Homo sapiens: one gene and its partners. The protein of the gene in region 5 purifies or fractionates together with the protein of the main gene of each other region. This does not show direct contact. Each region holds a gene or a part of one and is shown on either strand. Other genes may lie near its edges.

Region 1 (3,500 bases), on a different chromosome or scaffold from region 5:
CCACTCTGACTAACATGGGATAGCCTCTCCACATCACCCTGTCCCGTTAACTCTCAATCAGCTCGGGTTACCATAACAAAAATGCAGCCAGAAACAACCGAAATTTATTTCTTACAGTTCTGGAGGCTGGGAAATCCAAGATCAAACTGCCCATGAGGTAGGTTTTATTCTGAGCCTCTTCCCTGGGCTTGTAGATGACGAGAACTGTCCCAGTGTGTGTTCACATGATGTCTTCTTTGTGCTCTGAGGGAGAGAAGGAGTCACAGAGAGAGAGAGAGAGCTCTTGTGTCTCTCATGAGGGCACTAATCCCATTTAAGGCTCTACCGTCATAACCTAATTACCATCTCCAAATAAATCTCCAAATACAATCACACTGGGAAGTAGGGTTTCAGCATATGAAATTAGGGGTATGCAGTTCAATCCATAGCACCCTTTTATTTTTTTCCACAGTATTTATCATCTCCTGACATACTATACAGTTAGGTGTTACTTAACAGTGTTTATTCAACAGTGGACCACATATGTGACAGTGGTCCTGTAAGTTTATAATGGAGTTGACAAAATTCCTACGGCCTTGTGACATCATAGTTGTCATAATGTCGTAGTGCAATGCGTTACTTACATGTTTGTGGTGGTGATGGCATAAACATACTCTACTCCCAGTCACATAAAAGTATAGCACATATAATTATGTACAGTACATAATATTTGATAATTAAATGACTGCATTACTGATTTATGTACTACTATGGTTTTTATTGTTATTTTAGAATGTACCACTTTTTTTTTAAGTTAGCTCTAGAAGCAAGGTCCTTCAAGAGGTATTCCTCTTCAAGGCATTATCATCACAGGAGTTGACAGCTCCATGCGTGCTACTGCCCCTGAAAGACCTTCCAGTGCGATAAGATGTAGAAGTGGAAGACAGTGATATTGATGGTCCTGTGGAGTCCTAAGCTAATGTGTATATGTGTCTTAGTTTTTAACAAAAAGTTTAAAAAGTTAAACAACTTTAAAAAGAAATTTTAAATAGAAAAAACTTATAAGAATATAAAGAAAGAAAATATTTTGGTACAACTATACAAAGTGTGTTTTAAGCTAATGGTTATTACAAAAGAGTCAAAATTTTTTTAATTAAAAAGTTTATAAAGTAAAATTACAGTAAACTAACGTTAATTTATTATTGAAAGAAAAATACTTTTATAAATGTATTAATAATGGCTAAGTGTACCATGTTTATAAAGTTTACAGTACTATACAGTAACGTCCCAGGCCTTCACATTCACTTATTACTCACTTACTAACTCATCCACTGCAACTTCCAGTCCTGCGAGTTTCATTCATGATAAATGCCCTATACAAAGTGCCCTGTATTTATGTATAGGGTTATAAAATGTATAACCCTATAGAAAGGTATCATTTTTCATCTTTTATAGTGTATTTTTCTGTGTTTAGATACACAAATACTTCAGTACAGTAACATATGCTACACAGGTTTGTAACCTAGAAACAGTAGGCTGTGCCAACTACATTTGTGACAGTGTGCTCTATGATGTTTGTACAAGAATTAAATTGCCTGTGTTTCCCAGCATGTATCCCTGTCATTAAGGGACACATGACTAGACTTATTGATTTATTGTCTGTCCCGTCCCACTAGGATGCACAATTCTAAGAGTGTGGTGACTTTGTTTATCCACTGGCCCCTTGTTCCTAGTATGGCATCTGGCTAATGGTAGATAACTAATCAGTGTGACTATATTCACTTACTGCCATTATGTTTGTAATAATAAGCTAACAGCAGTTATCTTTGTTCTAACTCTGCATCATTTAAGTCAACTTGTATGTTCAAGAAGAAGAAGAATGGCATGAAAATTGTTTTTTAGATTTTCACGGTAACATTTTATTTTCTATTATAGGTAATGAATATTCGAACAGTACTGAACAAACTGGAAAAACCACAAGGCCTTTATCCTAACTATCTGAATCCCAGTAGTGGACAGTGGGGTCAACGTAAGTCAGAAGATTTGCATTATTATAGCTCTTTTTGGTACTGTACTCGTGGAGAGAGAGGAAGCACAAAAGCAGCACAGATTTTGTTGAGAAATGTTTAGAAAAGGAGAAAAGGGCATGGCTCCTTTAATAAACAGGCTTCTGTCATCAGATTGTGTTATTAGGACACTGGATTGTGTATTTTTCATATATAACTCCAAGTGTGATGACATATAAGCACATTTACAGCTATTAATCAGAAAGGGAAGATCTGGCCAGAGTAGTGTGGGGATGTTAATCTGTAACAAGCTGGTCATGTGGATAGAAAGGAAATTCATTCCTTTGTACTAATGACTATGAGGGTTTTATAGAGAGTAGGTAGACCATTCTGCTTCCTAACATTCTGTTTCTGCATGGCTATATAATGAGAGAGGAGCCTGAATTTTTAAGAGTTGGGAAATTGGAAGAGCAAACAGCCTGTTTTTCTCTTCTTAATTTTAAGCTGCCAGATATAAAGGTTTCTTGCCAGTAGAATTACCTTTAGGATGGGAGAAAGTATTGCACAAGAACTTTTGATCCTAGAAGCCTGCACTTAAGACTCTTCAGACGATTTTGAGCAGGGGCATAAAGATTCAGAGTAGTTGAAAGAAATGTTCTCAAGCTGATTTGGAAAAACAGTAGTAGATTAAATAGCTGAAAACAAGTGAAGAATATTGAGATACCCAACTGTAGCAAGAGTACACTGCCTTAAGATTTTACTCTAATTTGGGTTTTTTCTTTATATTTTAATATCATGTTCTTAGATACCTCATTATTACTTTAGAAGTACTTTTCTTAAAGAATAGTTTAATAGGAAAGTATATGCCAAAATCCATATGCTAAAATATGTCTGTAGCTCTGGAAGGCCTAGCTGTTGAAACCTTAGGACTATAATCAAGGTTACCACTTACCTAAGTGTGGTCAACAGATCACTGGAAGTCCTTGAGACCTCTGAGGAGGCCCACAAGGTCAAAAATATTTTTATTATAATACTAGTATAATGATATATAATAACAAGACATATAATACATGTCTTAGTCATATTTACTAAGCCAGTACACAGTATCTTGCACTTAGTGGATGTTTACTTACTTAAATTTTGTGAATACATATGTGCTCTGTATCTCATCTCTCTTTCTGCCTCTGCTTTTAATAGTGGTACTTTGAAAGACTTTCTGCCTTTTCTAATGTGTTGATATTTACACCTACAGTGTTAGGTGATACTGCTGAAGCCTCACTGAGAACAAAGGCGAACAAACACCAAATAGTACTAATATTCATATTTTTTCTTTTTTTTTTCTTTTTTGTGGGACAGGGTCCCACTGTGTCACCCAGGCTGGAGTACAGTGTCATAATCTCAGCTCATTGCAACCTCTGCCTCCTGGGCTCAAGCTGGGCTCAAGCTATCTTCCCACCTCGGCCCCCCGCCCCGAGTAGCTGGGACTACAGGTGCACGATGCCATGCTCAGCCAAT
Region 2 (3,500 bases), on a different chromosome or scaffold from region 5:
GGTTATCGTAATGTATCTGCAACTTAATATTCTGCATGTGTACTTGTCTGGGGTGATTTTTATTGATTTCATGTCATCAGTTCATGAAATAGAACATGAAATCAATAATTAATATTGATGACATGAAGTCAATAATAATCAGTTGTTACTCAGATACCCTCAGGTTTTTTCACCTCTCCCCAGTCACTGCCGTGCAGGAATTTAAAGGAAATGAGAAAGGCGGCAGCCAAGGAGCTCATCCTTGTGAGAAGAATTTCTATATTTTATTATTAAAAATCCTCAGGTGATTTGCAGGCACATTAAAGTTTGAGAAGATCAAGTGAAATAATTAAGATTTAGTTATTGAAACTGATATAACAATGAGCTAGAGATTGTTTATCTGCTAAAATTGCTTTTCAGAGAAAACTTCCCATATCCAGTAAATGATTTACTATTTCCACTACCGCTTGCTTAGACTTGATCCCAATTATATTTGCTATCTTGTGTCCCCCGCTTTCCTGGGAAGACTGTGAGGACAGGAGCTTGTCCCTGTTCATATCCCCAGCACAGTGCCTGGCACACATTATGTGCTTTGTGAATGGTTTGGAAATGAATAAATCCTAGCTTTCGATATGAGAAAAGTAGTTTAATATGTTTTGCATTATCCAGCATAAGGGATAATTACCCAGGTATCAAGAGCCTTTTTCTTTAATACTATTGCCCTTTTCATCAGCAGCAAGCAGAGTAAAATGAAAGAATGTTAAGCTTAAAACCATTAATTGGTCAACTTGTTAGCAATTCTAACAAGAAGTTAAGTTAGGAGATATCATAGGCCACAGAAAGAACTCTTACAAGTGATTTCCGAATACAAGTACCTGCCACCCCAACTGTCAGGGATAATTAAGAGTGGATTGGGATGTCTTTTAGTTGTTTTAGGTAAAATTTTGCTTTCCAATCCCTGTTGACAGCTCTATATACATCCTTGTGCATATAAATCAGATTTGGTGACACTAATCTAGTTGAAAGAAAAGACTTCCAACCCCATATACTTACTTTCTCTCTCCAGGAAGCTATTGGTGTGCATTTGTATTCTTGTGTCATGTTTTGGTGCCCTAGATAGCAACTAGAACATTTACAGAGAAGTCCCAGGCTGTTGAACTGCACGTGAGAGGAGGTGAGCAGGGCACTGGATTTGGAAACTAATCAAGCTGCCGCTTAGCCGTTCTTGATTGCACTTGAGGAATTGTGAGTTGTCACACAGTATACTCATGTAAGTGATAAATTCCCATTAAAGTGAAATAAGTGTTCTTTTTTTAAAAAAAAATTCCCTCCTGTAGTTATTATTCAGTCAAAATTGAAGCTCCTGCATATGCTAGGCATTGGCTGAGGGTTGAAAAGCTTGTTCCTGTGCCTTCAGAGGGAGCGCAGTATGATGAAGGCTAGGGGAGCAGGTCCACTTCCAGTGCCACGCTTATACGCCAAGTGCAGTGGGCGTAGAGAAGCAGCATTCAGAATATGTGAAATCCAGTATTTCACCTCCTAGATGAGGGGATGCGGAGTTGAGTTTTGAAGGATAAGCAGAATTTAACTGAGTGAAATAGAAAGCTCATTGTCTACGCCATAGTTGCTTTGGTTTGTATGGCTAAGCAGTAGTGTTCAGGTATTTTGCTCTCCCAAAAATATTTGGATCACATGATACAAACAGTGAAGATTCTGTCTGCTCTGGGTTAATTTTGGAGGCCAGGAAAAAAATGTCCATGATTCATGATACGAAGAATGAGCTTGTGCTGCTGAAAATGAAAAAGTAAGCTAGCATTTCGTCATCCTGCACTACTTGCTGCTTTGAAGGAATATAGATTCCTAGGTCATAGAATATATACATAGTCAAAAACACTCCTAAAGAATCAATTATTTGTGAACCAGATAGAGTATACAAGTCTTTGGAGATCAAGAGAGTGAAATGAGAAGCCATAACTGCCCTCTGCCTAGCTAGGCTGAGTTCCGAGAGGTGGTTGGAAGACAGAAAGTGGCGTCTGTCCCTGGGTAAGGGCTGTGGCGTAACTGGGTGTGGGGCTTTTCTCTAATCATCTGGAGAGGAGAGCCCCTGACAAGCTGGCCCCCAAACAAGGTGGCTATGGATTCTTCTTTTTATAAAAGTTTAAAGTGTCTTAAATAACCTTTTGTGCCATTGAATAGAAAGAAAGGTAGTGGAACTCCAGAATACAAGGGATTGGCCAGAATAAATGGTTGGTATAGAGTAGATGTCAATCTTTTTATTTAAAAATTTTTTAAGTACATTAATACAGTACATTAACATAGCTGTTTTAATACAAGGGTGCATTAAAATAATGCCATAAAAGCACCAGCAGCCAGAACCACAGATCTCATGGTCCTTGGATGCACTTCCTGTGGCTGCTGTAACAATTGCCACAAACTGGGTGGCTCAGAACACAGAGCTTTATCCTCACAGTTCTGAAAGCCAGAAGACCAGAATCAAGGTATCAACAAGGCGATGCTCTCATCCAGCATCTGATGGCCCTTGGCATTCCTTGGCTTATGACTATGTCACTCCAGTCTCTACATCCATCTTCACATGGTGGCCTTCTTCTCTGTGTCCTTACGTCTTCTCTTTTTCTGTGTTTTGTAAGGACATTTGTCATTGGATTTAAGGTACACTCTAAATCCAGGATGATTTCATCTTGAGACCCTTAGTTACATCTACAAAGACCCTATTTCCAAATAAAGTCACAGTCACAGGTTCCAGGGATTAGGACTTACATCTTTTGGGGTCACTATTCAACCCACTACAGACCCCTACCAAGTATAATGTAATTTGGAAAGACATGTGCCTCCATGGGATTAAACAGAAAGACGTCGTCATCTGAAATGTACCTTCTCTCTTTGTGGAGAAAGTCAGTTTTGTTTTGCTTTGCTTTCACTCTGATGTTATGGAAGCGGCAGCATCTGGGGCTCTGCCTTGGATATGTGCAGTTCTGGAGAGTATGCTGTTGCACAGTCTGATGAGGGTGATTCTCCTCGCTGTTGATACCAAAGCAGTATTTGTCGAGTCTCATGACATGGCAGGCACTGCTCTAAGCATTCCACATGTCTTAATCTCATTCAGTCCTCAATACAGCTCTGCAAAGTAGATCTCATTACCTCCTATTTACTAGATGAGGAAACTGAGGCACAAAAAGGTTAAGTAACATGCCCAAGACCAACCAGCTTCAATGTGATGGAGCCAGTGTTTAAGGCATGTCTCTGTCTTCTCAGTGACTTCAAGTGCTACAAGGGGTGGAGGTGCCAAGTTTACAGAGGATGGACCCACTGCTCGGTTTTTCTGTTCTGACTTTTCTCTCTTGGCACTTCTTTGTGTAAGAGCAGCAGGAGAGCCTTTTAACCAGATCTGCACATCACACTTCCCTGGGATACATTTTAGAAACATGCCTTGCCCAGGGTCTGCCCCTGGAGATTTGAGCTCAGTCTATGGTAGGTAAGGTACATGTGGCTGTATTTGTGTC
Region 3 (3,500 bases), about 23 Mb from region 5:
TATGAACACTATACAAGCACATATATTATGAATAGTTGTACAGCAGATGACAGGAAGAGATGGACTTAAATTACAAGGGGAGGAACCTTAAGAAGGGTTCTGTGGAGAACTCAGTTCTGAGGGCAGTCATTTTGTCAATGAAATAAGTATAGAACATAACTTTTTACAATGTTTTAAGTGTATTTCAGGCAAGAAGCAAAGGGTGGAGCAAAAGCTGGATTTCCAATACCTTTTTGCCAAAGTTAAATGCTTTCTGCTAAGCTATCAATAAAGATTGCTTTAGAAATCAGATTGTCTTTGGTAGAGGCAAGAATGTATTAAAAGATTGGTGAATTTCAGAGCAGATTTGGAAAAATTGAGCTTTTATCTTTTTTTTTTATTGTGTAGCTTTACAGAAGATATAACTTTAGTAGGTCCCAAAACTTCAAAGTAAATAAAACTGACAAAAGAGTTTTCTAGTTTTCCTCTTAAATAGTTAATAACTCATTTACTTGCTGGTATCAGTTTGGTGAAGATGTGAAATTGTTTTATGCTCATGTTTTGTCATTGAGTGAGACTAACTTGATACCTACCTTTAATTCACTTACATTTCAGTTTTTAGAGAAATTAAAAATGATGCCAATCTTTTAATATTAGGATTAAATGGAGCACAATAGGATGTTTAGTAGTTGGAATTTACTTTTTCAAATATAAGTGAGTAAACCTTTCATAATCTGACTTAATTTCATTAATAGTTAAGGCATCTTTTTACATATATTGGAGAAAACATAAGAATAATCTTTGTATCTGATATATTTTGAAGTAGAATTGTTTCGTGAAATTATTATTGCTTGTGAAAGTTTTGCTAAGAGAATACAGAACACCTATACAAAAAATGCCATGATTAATTCTCAAAATCATTGTGTGAGGTAGGTATTATTAGAAGAAACTGAAGCTTTGAGAATAGTAGTTTTGCCTAAGGTTCATGTCTGTCTACTGCTGTGCTCTTCGTGTAGAGGCCCATTATTTTTTTTTTGTCTACATTATTGTAACAGCCACCAACTAGTCTTAGCTCTAGTCTTGTCCTGATTGAATCATATCACACTTAGCAGTAGCCAGAGTGACTTATCTAAAGTACAGATCTGATAATGTAACTTTCTTGCTTAAAACCCAACAGCAGTTCCCTGTTCTTAAAATATAAATTAAACTCAGCAGAGCTTTCATGATCTGGCTAGTTTTTTTTTTTTCACTTTTAAGTTCAGGAGTACATGTGCAGGTTTGTTATATAAGTAAACTTGTGTCATGGGGGTTTGTTGTACACAATTATTACATGGGGGTTTGTTGTACATAATTATTAATCTGTTTGTTGTACAGATTATTTCATCACCTAGTGATATGTTACATCATATCTAGTGATATCTGTACATCATATCGTATATAGTACCCAGTAGTTATTTTTTCTGATCCTCTCCTTTGTCCCACCCGCCACCTTCTGACAGGCCCCAGTATGTGTTGTTCCCCTTCCTCTATGTGTCCATGTGTTCTCATCATTTAGCTCCCACTTATAAGTGAGAACATGCAGCATTTGGTTTTCTGTTCCTGCATTTGTTTGCTAAGGATAATGGCCCCCACCTCCATCCAAGTTCCTGTAAAGGACATGTTCTTGTTCTTTTTTATGACTACATAGTATTCTATGGTATATGTGTACCACGTTTTCTTTATCCAGTCTGTCATTGATGGGCATTTAGGTTAATTCCATGTCTTTGTTATTGTGAATCAGTGCTACAAGGAACATAACACATGCATGTGTCTTTATAATAGAACAATTTATATTCCTTTGGGTGTATTCCCAGTAATGGGATTGCTGGGTCAATGATATTTCTGTTTTTAGGTCTTTGAGGAGTCGCCACGTTGTCTTCCACAATGATTGAACTAATTACACTTCTCCCAACAGTGTACAAGCATTCCTTTTTCACCACAACCTCGCAAGCATTTGTTATTTTTTTGACCTTTTAATAATTAGCCATTCTGACTGGTGTGAGATGGTATCTCATTGTGGTTTTGATTTGCATTTCTCTGATTGGTGATGTTGAGCTATATTTCATATGATTGTTGGCTGTATGTATGTCTTTTTTTGAAAAGTGTTCATGTCCTTTACCCAGTTTTCAATGGGTTTTTTTCTTGTAAATGTGTTTTAAGTTCTTTATAGATTTAGATTAATTTTTTGTTTGTTTGTTTTGTTTTTTTTTTGAAACGGAGTCTTGCTCTGTCGCCCAGGCTGGAGTGCAGTGGCACAATCTTGGCTCTCTGCAAGCCCCGCCTCGCGGGTTCATGCCATTCTCCTGCCTCAGCCTCCCGAGTAGCTGGGACTACAAGCACCCACCACCATGCCCGGCTAATTTTTTTTTTTTTTTTTTTTTTATTTTTAGTAGAGACAGGGTTTCACTGTGTTAGTCCTGATGGTCTCAATCTCCTGACCTCGTGATCCACCTGCCTGGGCCTCCCAAAGTGCTGGGATTACAGGCGTGAGCCACCGCACCCAGCCTAGATTAGTTCTTAATAGATGCTGGATATTTTGCAAATTATGAATCTTTGTCAGATGCGTAGTTTGCAAAAATTTTCTCCCATTCTGTAGGTAGCCTATTCACTCTGTTGACCGTTTCCTTTGCTGGACAGAAGCTCGTCAGTTTAATTAGATTCCATTTGTCAATTTTTGCATTTGTTGCAATTGCTTTTGGCATCTTTATCCTGAGATCTTTGCCTATTTTTGTGTCTAGAATGGTATTGCCTAGCTTGTCTTCCAGGGTTTTTATAGTTTTGGGTTTTATATTTAAGTCTTCAATCCGTCTTGAGTTAATTTTTGTATATGGTGTAAGGAGGGGTCCAGTTTCAGTCCTCTGCATATGACTAGCCGGTTACCCCAGCACCATTTATTGAATAAGGAATCCTTTTCCTATGGCTCATTTTTGTCAAGTTTGTTGAAGATCAGTTAGTTGTAGATGTGCTGCCTTATTTCTGGGTTCTCTATTGTGTTCCATTGGTCTATGTGTCTGTTTTTGTACGAGTACCATGCAGTTTTGGTTACTGTAGACCTGTAGTGTAGTTTGAAGTTGGGTAGCATGATTTCTTCAGCTTTCTTCTGTTTGCTTAGGATTACCTCTGCTATTTGGGCTCTTTTTTGGTTCTATATGAATTTTAAAATAGTTTCTTCTAGTTCTGTGAAGAATGTCAATGGTCATTTAATAGGAATAGCATTGAATCTGTAAATTGGTTTGGGCAGTATGGCCATTTTAACAGTATTGATTCTTCTTACCCATAAACATAGAATGTTTTTTCATTTGTTTGTGTCATTTCTGATTTCTGTAAGCGTAGTTTTATAGTTCTCCTTCTAGAGATCTTTCACCTCCCTGGTTAGCTGTGTTCCTGGGTATTTTATTCTTTTTATGGCAGTTGTGAATGGAATTACATTCCTGATTTGGCTTCAGCTTGACTGTTGTTGGTGTATAGGAATGTTAGTGATA
Region 4 (3,500 bases), on a different chromosome or scaffold from region 5:
GAGTAGGCAAGAAGAAAGCCTGCATTTTAGAAAGCTCTTGCATTTGCATGGCTGTTTTTAAATGCTATTTCCGAGACGTTAAGAAATGTATTCTTCTGATCTTATGGTCAAAAAGGAACCAAACAAAACAGTTGCATGCTAGAAGCCAAGGGGATGTTCTTCAAGAATAATAAATGCGTAGCTATAATGGAAAAGCCTGTTAAAGTGAACATCCCTTCCTTTTAGCCACCCAGTAAAGAGATTTACTTCTTTGCCTCCCACTTAAGCACTCTTGATTTGTAAGTGAACCTAAATATTGACCTTACATAGAAAGATGTGCTAAAGTGCCAGTTGCCAATAATTATGCAGATGCGGGAGTAGAATAGAATGGGAATGGAAACTCTCAGAAGGAACATAGTGATCAAAAGCACCAACTTGAGTCTGCTGTCTGTGTTAGAGTCCCAGCTCTGCTCCTGATATCTGTGTGATCATGGCCAACTATTTAACCACTGTAAATTCTAGGTTTCTTATGCAGAAAGGGGCTGATAACAGTATGTTAGTCATAGTGTTCTGAGAGATAAATGAGCTTCATACACATTAAAGGACTTTGAACTGTGCATATACCCCTTAGCATAAATGTTACATCAGGGGAAGGTTTCGTGTGGCTAGTGAAATCACTCTAAATATTGCAGTCTTAACTTTCTGGCTTTTTTTCTGTCTTGCTTAAAATACTAGAGAAAGGAATGTTGAATTGGGGATTTAGAGAGAAAAAAAGATGTGTTTGAAGATTTTTAAAAGGTGGTCTAGGGTACGAAACTGGTGCAGTTTCTGCTGATAATGAAGCTTTCTTATGAGCGTCACCTCTCGATCATTCTTAGGCTACCAATTATGAGCCTAAGAGATCTTAATGCTCTTGTTTTTCCTGTTATTACTGCACAGTAATGCTTATTTGCACATCCATTCGCAGGTGAACAAGGAAAATTAAGAGTGAATGTCCAGTCTAGTCATTTGACTCCTGGTAATATTTCTAGTGACAGCAAGATTCAGTGAACTTTGGAAGTTAGTATTTACATGAAGGGTTATTTGTGCATTGCATTTATCTAGAGTGTTTTTCTTAAATTTGGGGGTTTTACAGACCAATAAAATATCCAGAAATATTCCAGAAGACAGCAGAGTTTTAGTTTGCTAAGAGGAAAAGAAAAATATCTTCCACCTACCAACAGTATTATTTTTAAAAGGTGTGTGTGCGATTATGTATACATGTTTGTACTGCAAAATGTGTACTTCAAATTATGAAAGGTACTTTTAAATCAAATAAGTTTAGCTGTATTTAAAAATTACATTTTCTGATTTTTGGTTTGTTTTCTTCAATTCATCATAGACTGGTGAAAGCTTTCCTGGGTGAGGAGTGATCTTTGTACTAATGTTTGAGAGTATACATTTAGACCATCATGTTCTCACTTGACTTTATATTATTTAGTATTTTTAGTCAACAATGCTATTCTTAAGAATAATCAAGTTTTTAGATGTACCTAAATAAATAAATCTGTGCAGTAATCATGTGCACTGTTTTGTGAACATAAATCTTTTAAGTACTCAAGATTTATAATTAGGTTAAATTGGGATAAATATTTTGATAAGTGACCATGCTAATGCATGTTTTCCAGAAACTTGAGAGGAACCTTGTTATGTAGTGAATGAAGAAATTAATTTTTTGGAAATGGAGTTGATAGAGGAATAAACTACAGAATGCAAGCATTCTTATTTCCTGCAAAAATATGGCTTCCCTTTTATTTTCCAGCCAATCGACTTTGAAACAAATAGGATGTTTGTCCTTACTGTTGCTGCAGAAAATCAAGTGCCATTAGCCAAGGGAATTCAGCACCCCCCTCAGTCAACTGCAACCGTGTCTGTTACAGTTATTGACGTAAATGAAAACCCTTATTTTGCCCCCAATCCTAAGATCATTCGCCAAGAAGAAGGGCTTCATGCCGGTACCATGTTGACAACATTCACTGCTCAGGACCCAGATCGATATATGCAGCAAAATATTAGGTATGAAATGCTGTTTGTAGTGTTTTTGTAGCTTACTTATGTTCTATGCTGTGCATAAAATTTATCTAATTCACTATTTGAGTAGAAATTTTCATTGCAATCAAAACTACTTATTAAAAGATAATTTAAAATTCTTTGAATTTTCTTCTCAGTAAGTCAATGACTATATTAGATATAAATAGATATCTGTATCCATATTAAAATGGATTTACTATTTGAAGAAAAAGCTGTTCTTGTTTCTCTGTATCTGCCATTTTTACTTAAAAAATACTTTAAAATTATTTAGCCTGTGCCTTTATGCCAAACATCACAAAAAGGTTCCGCAGGGAACTTTCAGAGGCTTATAACATTTATCTCTCCTCCATGCATCATGAAGGAAAGAAAGCTTATGCCAAAACCAGGATCTAAGAGTTAATTATTTTCATTCCTTACCTGTACAGTAGTTATTGGACTTATGAAACCTATCTGTAAAGATTTCCAAACTCAGCAAAATGTAATTTATCCTTTCTGATGAGGGAGTGGATGGTTGCCAGAGCACACCCCATGCGACTGTTCTCCAAAGCTGGTGATGATCATTTTTAAAATGAACTTATATTTCATTAAACTTCTTACAGAACTGCTGCTAAAAGATAACTTTCTATTGTTATCTTTTATTAAATGTTAAATGTTCTCCATTTCTCTATTCACTGAAATCAAGATAACTATTAATAAATAGCCAGTTAATAGATGTATTGAAATCCTACAACTTGTACCTTTCCAAACATAGCATACCTTTTCCAATCCAACTGGTTATCTAATCTTTAAAAGTTAATCCCCACTCCAAATTTTAAAAAGGAATTTAAGCTGATAAATCTGCCAATTCAGACTCAAGACTGTAGGACTTTCTTTGCAAAGGTATAGATCTGAGGCTTGGCCCAGTGTGAAAGATTCAAGTAGGAATGGGATTATGGTGGTCTCTCCAGTGTGGCTTCATGTTGGCCATGATAAAGTGTTAAAATGTTTTAGGAGTGTTCTGTGATGCAGTATTCAATTTCTATTATAATTTCTCTTAACTCCTGTACATTGAGACTACTGCTTATCTAGAAACTATATTCAAGCTATTTTACCTGAACCATTGATATCTGTTGAAGTGGACAAGAACCTAAAATGATAACTTTCCAATCTGCTTTAGCCCACATTAGGGAGACTGTGCACCTAGTCTTGTCCCTCAGACACCTGTAGAATGTTTCCTACATGCCTGACCAAACACAACCTTTATGTGCCTCCCAATACCACTGTCACAAAAATACTTTTTCCTGTTAAAGCTGTATGTCCAGCCATCATCTACAGAAATGCAAGTTAATGAGCCAGTTGCATTTGGAACTAAACCTGTAAAATATGTTTTTTTAAAGTTTCATAAAAAGAAATTAAACTTCACTTTCATTTTGTAGATACACTAAATTATCTGATCCTGCCAATTGGCTAAA
Region 5 (3,347 bases):
CTAAAGATAACTTAGGTTTTATGACATTTTTGTTTTTTGTTTTGTTTTTGTCAGTTAAAATAGGGAAATTTTAACTGAAATATCAATGAACAGTCCCATTCCCTATCCTCACCATTGGTACAGCGGATCTTGTTTTTCTTAATGTGGTACATATTAATAAAATTTATGAGACCTAAGGTCTACTGCATTTGAAAGATTAACCGACATAAATGGTATACTTTTATAAAACTCGTTAAAATGACAAAAAGGTTTCACATTTTTGAGGAACAAATGATCTAAAATACTTAATACAAATTGGCATTACCTTGAACACATTGCATCATGATTACATGAAAGAGCTGCTGAAATGGTCATGTGTTCAGAGACTACTACATCTGTAGGCTTAATAGTAAACGTTTGGTTGGTTGGTTGGTCGGCTGGTTGGTTTGCTGCTTAGCATCAGGACACCCACCCCTTGTGTGGGAAATATACAAGTGTGTGAGTCTATGGGTTGAAATCCAAAAAGCCTGATGCTTTTTCTCATTCCTGGCAACCAAGGGATATGACCAAATTGGGTCAATTGAATGCCCTTGCCCCTAACTGTGAACAGAGAGTAGTGTTACAAACAAGGAATAAAAGATTAGAATCAATGCCAGTGTCTTTCCATTGCCCCATCGTGTCAGGGTCCAAGTGTCCAGTAGCTGTGGTCCCTTAACCAGCCTGTACCTTTGGCCGTGGCACCAGCTACCTACTTTCCCTATGTCCCCAAGTTATCTGGTAACCATTCAGGAATTTTTTTTCCTACTTAGGTATACAAAAAACAGTGTCAGTTTTTGCTTGACAGATTAAATCATCCTTCAGAGATGCAGGAAAACTATTAGCAGCCAAGGGATGCTGCCAAGGCCAGTGTCTGGGCTCTGCAGTTTTCTAACTTGTGATATTGGGTCACCCCACTAAGCTCCAGGAGAGCAGCGACTGCATCTGGCTTAATCATTATGGGATGGCCAGCTCCCAATTCCATGCCCTAGGCAAAGAGACATTCAGTGAATATTGATTTGACTTCGACTTGATTGAACAAAATGGTAACACTGAACTCTAGGTTTCCTCAGTGTCTGTTACAGATTTCTTGATCCTGACTGCTTTTAATTTTTTTTTTTTTAGCAAGAAATAACTAACGAATGATGACACTAAGCTTTAAATTCAAGTAAATAGGAGGCTTTTTTTTTTCGCATAAGCAGAAATGAGGAAATCAAGAGGAAGAGATTAGATTTCTGTTGTGATAAATCGAATCTGTTAAATGCCATGACTTTTTAATTGTCTTAATCACAAGTTAAACCGGTTGTGTTGCTGCTTAGATGGCTATATATTTGTTTAAAAGTACAGCAGTCCCTCCTACTGGACTTTGATCCTACAAAAACAACTGTTATCTAACTCACCCTCAGACTGTCACTGGAACACCTGCATGAAGAATGTTCTTTCATTTTTTAAAAACGATTTTGCATATATGATTTATTTCAGCTTTCAAAATGATTAGAAAACTTTTTATTGTTCTACTTTTGTTGCTTGTGACTATAGAAGAAGCAAGGATGTCATCGCTCAGTTTTCTGAATATAGAGAAGACTGAAATACTATTTTTCACAAAGACTGAAGAAACCATCCTTGTAAGTTCAAGCTACGAAAATAAACGGCCTAATTCCAGCCACCTCTTTGTGAAAATAGAAGATCCTAAAATACTACAAATGGTGAATGTGGCCAAGAAGATCTCATCAGATGCTACAAACTTTACCATAAATCTGGTGACTGATGAAGAAGGAGAAACAAATGTGACTATTCAACTCTGGGATTCTGAAGGTAGGCAAGAAAGACTCATTGAAGAAATCAAGAATGTGAAAGTCAAAGTGCTCAAACAAAAAGACAGTCTACTCCAGGCACCAATGCATATTGATAGAAATATCCTAATGCTTATTTTACCACTAATACTATTGAATAAGTGTGCATTTGGTTGTAAGATTGAATTACAGCTGTTTCAAACAGTATGGAAGAGACCTTTGCCAGTAATTCTTGGGGCAGTTACACAGTTTTTTCTGATGCCATTTTGCGGGTTTCTTTTGTCTCAGATTGTGGCATTGCCTGAGGCGCAAGCTTTTGGAGTTGTAATGACCTGCACGTGCCCAGGAGGGGGTGGGGGCTATCTCTTTGCTCTGCTTCTAGATGGAGATTTCACATTGGCCATTTTGATGACTTGCACATCAACATTATTGGCTCTGATCATGATGCCTGTCAATTCTTATATATACAGTAGGATATTAGGGTTGTCAGGTACATTCCATATTCCTGTTTCTAAAATTGTGTCAACACTCCTTTTCATACTTGTGCCAGTATCAATTGGAATAGTCATCAAGCATAGAATACCTGAAAAAGCAAGCTTCTTAGAGAGAATAATTAGACCTCTGAGTTTTATTTTAATGTTCGTAGGAATTTATTTGACTTTCACAGTGGGATTAGTGTTCTTAAAAACAGATAATCTAGAGGTGATTCTGTTGGGTCTCTTAGTTCCTGCTTTGGGTTTGCTGTTTGGGTACTCCTTTGCTAAAGTTTGTACGCTGCCTCTTCCTGTTTGTAAAACTGTTGCTATTGAAAGTGGGATGTTAAATAGTTTCTTAGCTCTTGCCGTTATTCAGCTGTCTTTTCCACAGTCCAAGGCCAATTTAGCTTCTGTGGCTCCTTTTACAGTAGCCATGTGTTCTGGATGTGAAATGTTACTGATCATTCTAGTTTACAAGGCTAAGAAAAGATGTATCTTTTTCTTACAAGATAAAAGGAAAAGAAATTTCCTAATCTAACAATTAAAGCATTACTGAATTCCTACTCTGGGTAGGGCACTGTGGGAGAGTAAAAGAATAACTATAATGATACCTGCTCTTAAGCCACTTATAATGTAATTAAAAATCTGACATTGGGGGGTAGAGAATACATATATATATATACACACACACACACACACACACACACACATTCGTATATGCTAAGTACTCAATGAGTGGTGGAGATGATAATACAGAAGTTCAGAGGAAGGAGACAACTTTGCAACTGTGTTGGTTTGAGAATGTTTTATAGGCTATGATGTCAATATGATACTTTCAGTGGTCTCCTAAATGAGACAGAGCAATAGAAAACTTATTTAGTGATTATGATATATCCTAAGTATTAAAAGAAGGAACACCCAGATAGCAGACATTTGACAAATTCTCACTCGGTGAATGAATTTGTAAATTTCATTAGCACATCAAAATAAGTATGTTTTAAAGTAAATGTGGCATCTCTGCCCTCAGAGCTAAGCTTTCTCCTGTCTTCCATGTTAACCCACC
Region 6 (3,024 bases), on a different chromosome or scaffold from region 5:
TCAGAAATCCCTGTGGTGCATCATGAGGCAATCTGAGCTGCTGATCAGCAGAAAACCCTGCACTGTCTGAGCTTATCTTCCAGCCAAAGGCAAACAATTTACCCTTTGTTATTAGTCTGTCTGGATTTGTCTTAGATAAATGAGCCATTTTTGTTACAAGTTTTTTAAAGATATACAGTAGTTCCATTATAATTTTTGTGGACTCAAATATCAAGTCCACATGTAGGGAATCATTGACAGAGATTTCCAGTTACTGTCACCACCACACCAAGGCAGTAATTTTGCTCAGTTCTGCCTTTATAGATCCACAATTTAACCATTCAACAACCACCTGAGATCCTGAGTGGCAGGCCCTATGCTAAATGCTAGGACCACAGTAAGACCCAGTGCCTGACCCCAATTGCTGAGACTCTGAAGGAGACTATTATTAATGTGATAAGTGCTATGACCAAGCACAGAGCACATAGGAGGAGCTGTATGCATTATGGGAGCACACAGGAGGACTTCTGGGAGAAAGTGATAGCCAAGCTTAAACCTGGAGAAAAAGGGAACGCCAAACACAATATAGAGAGCAGTGTACCAGACAGTGGGGACACTGTGCTCAAAGACCTAGAGGCCAGAGGGTGAGGCACTGCAGATTGTTGAGTAGGCCGAGATAGAGCATACAAAAGCATAACAAAAGATGGGGCTAGGCAGACCAGGTAATAAACCTGCACTTTAAACCTGCACTTGATCCTGAGCACAGTAGAGAGCCACTGAAAGATTTTAAGCAAGAGAGTGCCATACAGTGTTGGAATGATTCACTCGGACAGCAATGTGGAAGATAGACCAGAAAGGGCAAGTCCAGAGGCCAACAATAATCTTAGCCTCAGAGTTCTTTTTTTAATACCCAAGAATACTATTTCATTTTACTTATATTTTTAAACTTTTCTCTATAACGCTCTCTCTGCTCCCCCACATTGTTGTCTGGATGGTAAACCTAGGACTGGTCTCTGAGTCCTGGTCACAGCCTGGCAACAGAATGTTTGAGCAAACTGGGAAGGCTGCCCCATGGATCCCTGGTTTCTTATCACCATCCTCTTAATTCTACGTTTGCCAACCAGTCTCTAGGAAGCCAGCGTGCTCTTGCGCCCCTCCCACCAGGTTTCCAGTTGCTAAGCGTGTCATGTTTGCATTTGGGTATCATCTGCATGAGTGACCATTTTAATCTCTCTTTCCTTGACTACTTGTTCTACACTAGAGTCTAGGGTGGGGGTGAGTACAGTGGTAAAGACAGGGATAGCGGGAAATTTAGTCTTCTGTTTAGGAAGCTGGATGGTAGTGTGGATTTTCTAACTCCTTGTGGTAATTAAATTCTGGAGCACAGTTTTTAGACCTTTTCTGAAATCTGTTACTGTTGAAGTCAGCTTCATATATTTCACTTTTTTTTTTTTTGAGACAGAGTCTCACACTGTTACTCAGGCTGGAGTGCACTGGTACAATCTTGACTCACTGCAACCTCCACAGCTCCCAGGTTCAAGCGATTCTCGTGCCTCAGCCTCCCAAGTAGCTGGTACTACAGGCGCGTGCCACCATGCTTGGCTAATTTTTGTATTTCTAGTAAAGATGGGGTTTTGCCATGTTGCCCAGGCTGGTCTCGAACTCCTGGCCTCAGGTAATCTGCCCGCCTCAGCCTCCCAAAGTGTTTGGATTGCAGGCATGAGCCACTGCACCCACCCTATTTCACTATTAAGTACTCTCTTCCTGTGATATTAATGACTTATTTGTTTCAAACTTTTTTGTGCCATTGAGCTTTTTAGTGATCCAGTGAAGCCTGTGGACCCCCTCTCATAGTAATGTTTTCAAAGCATAAAACTAAATATAAAGGATCGCAAAGGAAACTGATCATGTTAAAATAAAGTTGATATTTTCAAAGTTTTATGATCCAGTAACATACATATTCTGTTAACACAAAATAAGACTGCATGGTGGTTCTAAAATTACTATAATTCAAATTCATATCTTGAAATATCTAACAACTGTAATATATCTAAATGTCTCATTTCTATTGGTGACAAAGTCACAGGTACTCTGATCCTACTGTGGACTGTTTCCTATATTCGTAATTGAAGGAAATGTTATATTTCAGTTAGAAGTTGGTGAAAAGAAAGATTTAAAATTTTTCCCATCCAAGTTCACCAGACCCCTGGTTTAGAGGTTGTCTTAATTTTACTTTTGTCATTTTAAGAGTAAATTATTTTGTTTTCTTGTTCAATTCTCAATTATTTGGGCTTATTTTACTGCCTCTTGCATGCTTTTTTATGCTTGAATGGTTTTTGCAGTGTTAGAACAGTAATAATTGAAGACTTGGGTGGAAAAAAATCAGCACCTGATTGAAAATGAAAGGTTTCAACAAAAGCTCTTGATAATGTTACCTCCAGGTGTACCATCATGCCACCATTATTGGTGCTACAAATCTGTTAATTTATTTATGCTTAAGTATGTAAACTTTAATAAAACTTGGATCATCTGCATTAAAAAATAATGCTATCTTGTAAAAGTGTCTACTTAGGTAATTCACAATGGGGTGGGTTTGTTGATTCCCCATGACATTTGCAAAGCCCTTTGTAGCACTCTCACCTATCACCTTAAATGGATTCTTATAACATCCATCTAGTGGATTAAAGACTTAAATATAAAACCCAAAACTACAAAAACCCTGGAAGACAACCTTCAGAATGGGAGAAAATATTTGCAAACTATGCATCTGACAAAGGTCTAATATCTAGCATCTATAAGGAACTTAAACAAATTTACAAGAAAAAAACAACCCCATTAAAAAGTGGGCAATGGGCATGAACAGACACTTCTCAAAAGAATATATACATGCTTCCAACAAGCATATGAATAAAAGCTCAACATCACTGATCAAAATATTTGCAAACTATGCATCTGACAAAGGTCTAATATCTAGCATCTATAAGGAACTAAATTTACAAGAAAAAACAACCCCATTAAAAAGTAGGCAATGGGCCGGGCGCGGTG
Region 7 (4,044 bases), on a different chromosome or scaffold from region 5:
AAAGTATAAAGGAGAAAGTAACAAACCATTAGTTACCTCCCCAGAGATAACCATTGATGACATTTCCTCCCCAACATTTTTCCCCCTATGGATACACATACATTTTTTCAAGATCTTGTTTCCTTTGATATGTCATTTTAGTGGCTTGAACTTATTTCTGGAACAATATATGGGTAAAGTCTATGCATATATGTATCTATGTATATATCTATCTATGGAAAACAAGTAGATATAGACAGTAAAATAAAGACAGAGACAAGACAGCGGTTGGAGAGATGAAAGGAGAGAAAGTCATAGACAAGGAGAGACATATGGGGAGAGGAAGACACAGAGAGAGCTGTGGGCACATAAGGGCAGAAAGATAAACACAGAGAGCCATGGAGAGATGAAAGTATTGGGCTGGGGCCAGGCATGGTGGCTCAACGCCTGTAATCCCAGCACTTTGGGAGGCCGAGGAGGGCCGATTGCTTGAGCTCAGAAGTTGGAGACCAACCTGGCAACATGACGAAACCCCATCTCTACAAAAATACAAAAATTAGCCAGGCGTGGTGGTGGGCACCTGTAGTCCCAGCTACTTGGCAGGCTGAGGCATGAGAATTGGTTGAACCCTGGAGGTGGAGATTGCAGTGAGCTGAGATCCGGCCACTGTCCTCCAGCCTGGAGGACACAGCGAGACACTGTCAGAAAAAAAAAAACACAAAGAGACAAGGAGAGGATGGAAAGGAGCATTTATGGAGCTCCTACTGAATGTCATTCTAAACCTCCAAGGTCACTTTGAGGGAGGCTGTCAGTAGTAACCCCTTTACGCCGCTGAGAGCCTGAGCCTTAGAATGGCCAACTGAGCTGTCCATGGTCACATCACCTAGATTGAACCCATCTCCCTGGCGCGGGCCGGGCCCACTGCGGGTGATCCATTAACTATTTATCTAATGAACAAACTAAAGTCCATCTCCTCCCCCAGGAAGAGAGATGAGGACCAGACCCCCATTCCACTCCACTGAGTCAATTTTTCTTGCCTGTTTTCCTGTCTACTAAGGTAACAGTAAGGTCGGTTGCCCCAGCAACTGCCCTCCGACTGCCATGGCAACCGCCAGCTCTCCACCTTGCCCTTTGGGCATCTCCATGGCGACGGGAGGTCTGGTGGGGCTGCCAGCTCCCCAGGCTGCGCCTGCGTCGGTCGGGTGGGTGGGGTGGGGGCGGGGGGGGGGGGGCCTGGTTCCGGGCGTGCGCAGCCGCAGAGCGCCGCAGCCTCGCCAGCTCGCCCCGGCACTGCGCACTTGCCAGCCAGTCCGCCCGTCCGGAGCCCGGCTCGCTGGGGCAGCATGGCGGGGTCGCCGCTGCTCTGGGGGCCGCGGGCCGGGGGCGTCGGCCTTTTGGTGCTGCTGCTGCTCGGCCTGTTTCGGCCGCCCCCCGCGCTCTGCGCGCGGCCGGTAAAGGTGCGACCCCAGTCCGGCGAGGGGTGGGGGTTGGGGGAGGATGCCACCGGCGAGGGTTGGGGTTGGGGCTGCGCCGCCTCACCCCCGCCCGAGCCGGCTCCCGGGACGTGCGGAGAGATCGACGAGGGTGGCCCGGGCTCCGGCCGCCGGTCCGCGCCCAGGCCACGCCGGCACACCTGAGACCTGACTTGGTCTCTGCCTGTGCGGGTGGCGTTGTCCGGGGCGCCGCCGGTAACCGTGCCCTGCCCACCTCTCCGTGCCCGGTGCCTGTGACGCTGTCCACGGCACTAAGGCGCTTTAAGAAAGGGCGCGCGCGCATCAGTGTGTGTGCGTGTGATGTGAGGAGAGCGGTGTGGAGGTGTCGTGTCCTTGAAAGTGTGTGTTCTTTGGTTTGAGCGCTTCCAAGTGTCCTAGAAAGGTGCCGTGGTGCGTCTGGGTGTGTAGTGTGTGTGATACCGGGATACTTCTGTGCGCGATTCTTTTGTGCGTCCGATTGTTTTCTCAGTGACACCGTGTGGATATTTGTGAATCCTTATTATGTGTGTTGGCTTGGCCTATGGGCGTGTCTCTCTCTCTCTCTCTCTGTCTCTCTCTCTCTGTGTGTGTGTGTGTGTGTGTGTGTGTGTGTGTGTGTGTGTGATTTCGTTTGTGTTTGAGAGGGAATGGTCTTCGCATCTCCGTGTGCACATTCCATAGTGGTTCTGTTGGACCAAGTGCCTGGGATTTCGTTTGCGTGTTCCTGAGACTGTTTCTCTCCGTTTCTTTGTGGAGCTGTGTCATCCTGAGGAGAGGAGCCATGATGTCTCTCTGCTGCATTGTGTCTTTAAGGATGGTGCATGTCCTTGCACCTGGGTGGCTTGGCGATTGTAACTGCAGGAGCAGCTGCGGATGTGAACGTGTGCAGGTCCTTGCATGTGGCTGTGGCAGTGTTGGGCTGTATATGTGACATCTCCAGGCCTGTCAGTCCTCATGAGTGTGTGTGAGGCTGTGATTGCTGGTGAGTGTGATACCCCGGGGTGACTGAGGAGTGGTGGGCGCCAGCAAGGGCACTTGGAGAGGCATCCTCCTCTAGCTCTTCAATACTGTCTGCATCAAAGATGGGAATTAAAAAAAACTGTTACCTTATATCCGTGTAACAATGTGTTTAATATATATGTACAATGTAAAGAATGATGACAAAATAACTCTCTCGTGTAGCAGTCACTCAGCTTAATAAATAGAGCCTGACCAAGAGTTAGAAGCCCCTGCGTGCCCCTCGCCATGGCAGCCCCTGTCCCCACACAGTCCTTATTCTGTATTTTCTGTCCATTGATCCCTTACTTTTGTTTGTAGCTTATCACATATGTGTAGCTCTCAAAAAAAATCCATTGTTTAGTTTTTCCTGCTTTTGAACATCATTGAAACGGAATCATACTGGGTGACTGGTTCCTCGTAGTCACTAGGGGTCACTAGGAAGTCCTCAGGGTGTCTAGTAGTCTCAGGCAGTCTGCAGTGAAATTCTGGAACTTGACGTTTTTTTTTCCCTTGGCTCTATTCTGGTCACGAGATTCATCCAAGTTGATGCATGTGGCTGTAATTCATTTATTTTTATTGCTGCATAATATTACATCCTATGAGGACATCATGATTTATATATGTATTCTCAATTTGTCAGTGGACATTGGACTGTTTCCAGGCTTTTCTTTCTCCCCCGCCCTTTTATGCTATTACGAACAGTGCTGCTGTCATCTTTCACGAACTTGTGACCAGTAGCGTATGTGCCAAAGCTGCTCTGGGGAGTGACATCCCAGGAGTGGGTCATAGGATATGTGCATCTTTTTAGATATTGTCAAACCGCTCTGCAAAATTACTTTGCCAGTTTAATTCTCACCAGCATAGTATGAGAGTTCCCATTTTTCTGCATTCATATCAACACTTCATATTATCAGACTTTTTGATTTGGGTCAATCTTTTGGTTATATTATGCATAGTATCTCCCTGGCATTTTAATTTGCTTTCCCCTGATTACTAATGAGGTTTTTAATTTTATTTTATGTTTGTTAGAGACAGGGTCTTCCTCTGTCATGCACGCTGGAGTGCAGTGGTGCGATCTGGGCTCACTGCAACCTTGAGCTTCTGGACTCAGGTGATCCTCCCACCTCATCTTCCCAAGTAGCTGGGACTATGGGCTTGTGCCCCGCTCATTTTTTTTGGTTTTATTTTTTGTAGAGACAGGGTCTCGCCATTTTGACCAGGCTGGTCTCAAACTCCTGGCCTCAAGCGATCTTCCTGCCTTGGCCTCCCAAAGTGCTGGGATTACAGGCATGAACCACTACACGTGGCCCAATTTTTCATATGTTTAGTAATCATTTTTGTGAAATAGGCGATCATGTATTTTTTCTATTTCTGTATGAGTTTGTTTTTCTCTTACTACTTTTTAGGAATTCTCTGTATCTTCTGTGTACTACTCTTTCATTGACTATTTGTGTTGCAGGCATCACTCCTTTTAAACATATTTATATGTGGCCTGTATGTTTCTTTTCCAAACCTTCACAGTCATTTTTATGATCTTTTATTCCTTGCTCAGATTATTGGTACCCTCTTTTATTTCTTTAAACTTGTGGAAATT

What was found.
Region 1: the proteins of SLC10A5 (region 5) and MAN1A1 purify together in Homo sapiens (affinity purification with mass spectrometry; one large-scale study listed by BioGRID and IntAct). This does not show direct contact.
Region 2: the proteins of SLC10A5 (region 5) and WRNIP1 purify together in Homo sapiens (affinity purification with mass spectrometry; one large-scale study listed by BioGRID and IntAct). This does not show direct contact.
Region 3: the proteins of SLC10A5 (region 5) and LRP12 purify together in Homo sapiens (affinity purification with mass spectrometry; one large-scale study listed by BioGRID and IntAct). This does not show direct contact.
Region 4: the proteins of SLC10A5 (region 5) and CDH2 purify together in Homo sapiens (affinity purification with mass spectrometry; one large-scale study listed by BioGRID and IntAct). This does not show direct contact.
Region 6: the proteins of SLC10A5 (region 5) and TMEM59 purify together in Homo sapiens (affinity purification with mass spectrometry; one large-scale study listed by BioGRID and IntAct). This does not show direct contact.
Region 7: the proteins of SLC10A5 (region 5) and PCSK1N purify together in Homo sapiens (affinity purification with mass spectrometry; one large-scale study listed by BioGRID and IntAct). This does not show direct contact.

The regions. Positions count from the first base shown.
Region 1 is NC_000006.12:119,199,762-119,203,261, reverse strand, and holds part of MAN1A1 (mannosyl-oligosaccharide 1,2-alpha-mannosidase IA), read left to right. Parts: intron 1-1,914; coding exon 1,915-2,008; intron 2,009-3,500. UniProt on the Homo sapiens protein: Involved in the maturation of Asn-linked oligosaccharides. Progressively trim alpha-1,2-linked mannose residues from Man(9)GlcNAc(2) to produce Man(5)GlcNAc(2).
Region 2 is NC_000006.12:2,771,893-2,775,392, forward strand, and holds part of WRNIP1 (ATPase WRNIP1), read left to right. Parts: intron 1-1,045; coding exon of another isoform or gene 1,046-1,106; exon of another isoform or gene 1,107-1,159; intron 1,160-3,500. UniProt on the Homo sapiens protein: Functions as a modulator of initiation or reinitiation events during DNA polymerase delta-mediated DNA synthesis. In the presence of ATP, stimulation of DNA polymerase delta-mediated DNA synthesis is decreased.
Region 3 is NC_000008.11:104,579,259-104,582,758, reverse strand, and holds part of LRP12 (low-density lipoprotein receptor-related protein 12 isoform a precursor), read left to right. Parts: intron 1-3,500. UniProt on the Homo sapiens protein: Probable receptor, which may be involved in the internalization of lipophilic molecules and/or signal transduction. May act as a tumor suppressor.
Region 4 is NC_000018.10:27,988,631-27,992,130, reverse strand, and holds part of CDH2 (cadherin-2 isoform 1 preproprotein), read left to right. Parts: intron 1-1,780; coding exon 1,781-2,034; intron 2,035-3,464; coding exon 3,465-3,500. UniProt on the Homo sapiens protein: Calcium-dependent cell adhesion protein; preferentially mediates homotypic cell-cell adhesion by dimerization with a CDH2 chain from another cell. Cadherins may thus contribute to the sorting of heterogeneous cell types.
Region 5 is NC_000008.11:81,693,131-81,696,477, reverse strand, and holds SLC10A5 (sodium/bile acid cotransporter 5 precursor), read left to right. Parts: upstream 1-1,419; 5' UTR 1,420-1,505; coding exon 1,506-2,822; 3' UTR 2,823-2,847; downstream 2,848-3,347.
Region 6 is NC_000001.11:54,026,181-54,029,204, reverse strand, and holds the end of TMEM59 (transmembrane protein 59 isoform 2 precursor), read left to right. Parts: 3' UTR 1-2,524; downstream 2,525-3,024.
Region 7 is NC_000023.11:48,832,811-48,836,854, reverse strand, and holds the start of PCSK1N (proSAAS preproprotein), read left to right. Parts: upstream 1-1,244; 5' UTR 1,245-1,322; coding exon 1,323-1,436; intron 1,437-4,044. UniProt on the Homo sapiens protein: May function in the control of the neuroendocrine secretory pathway. Proposed be a specific endogenous inhibitor of PCSK1.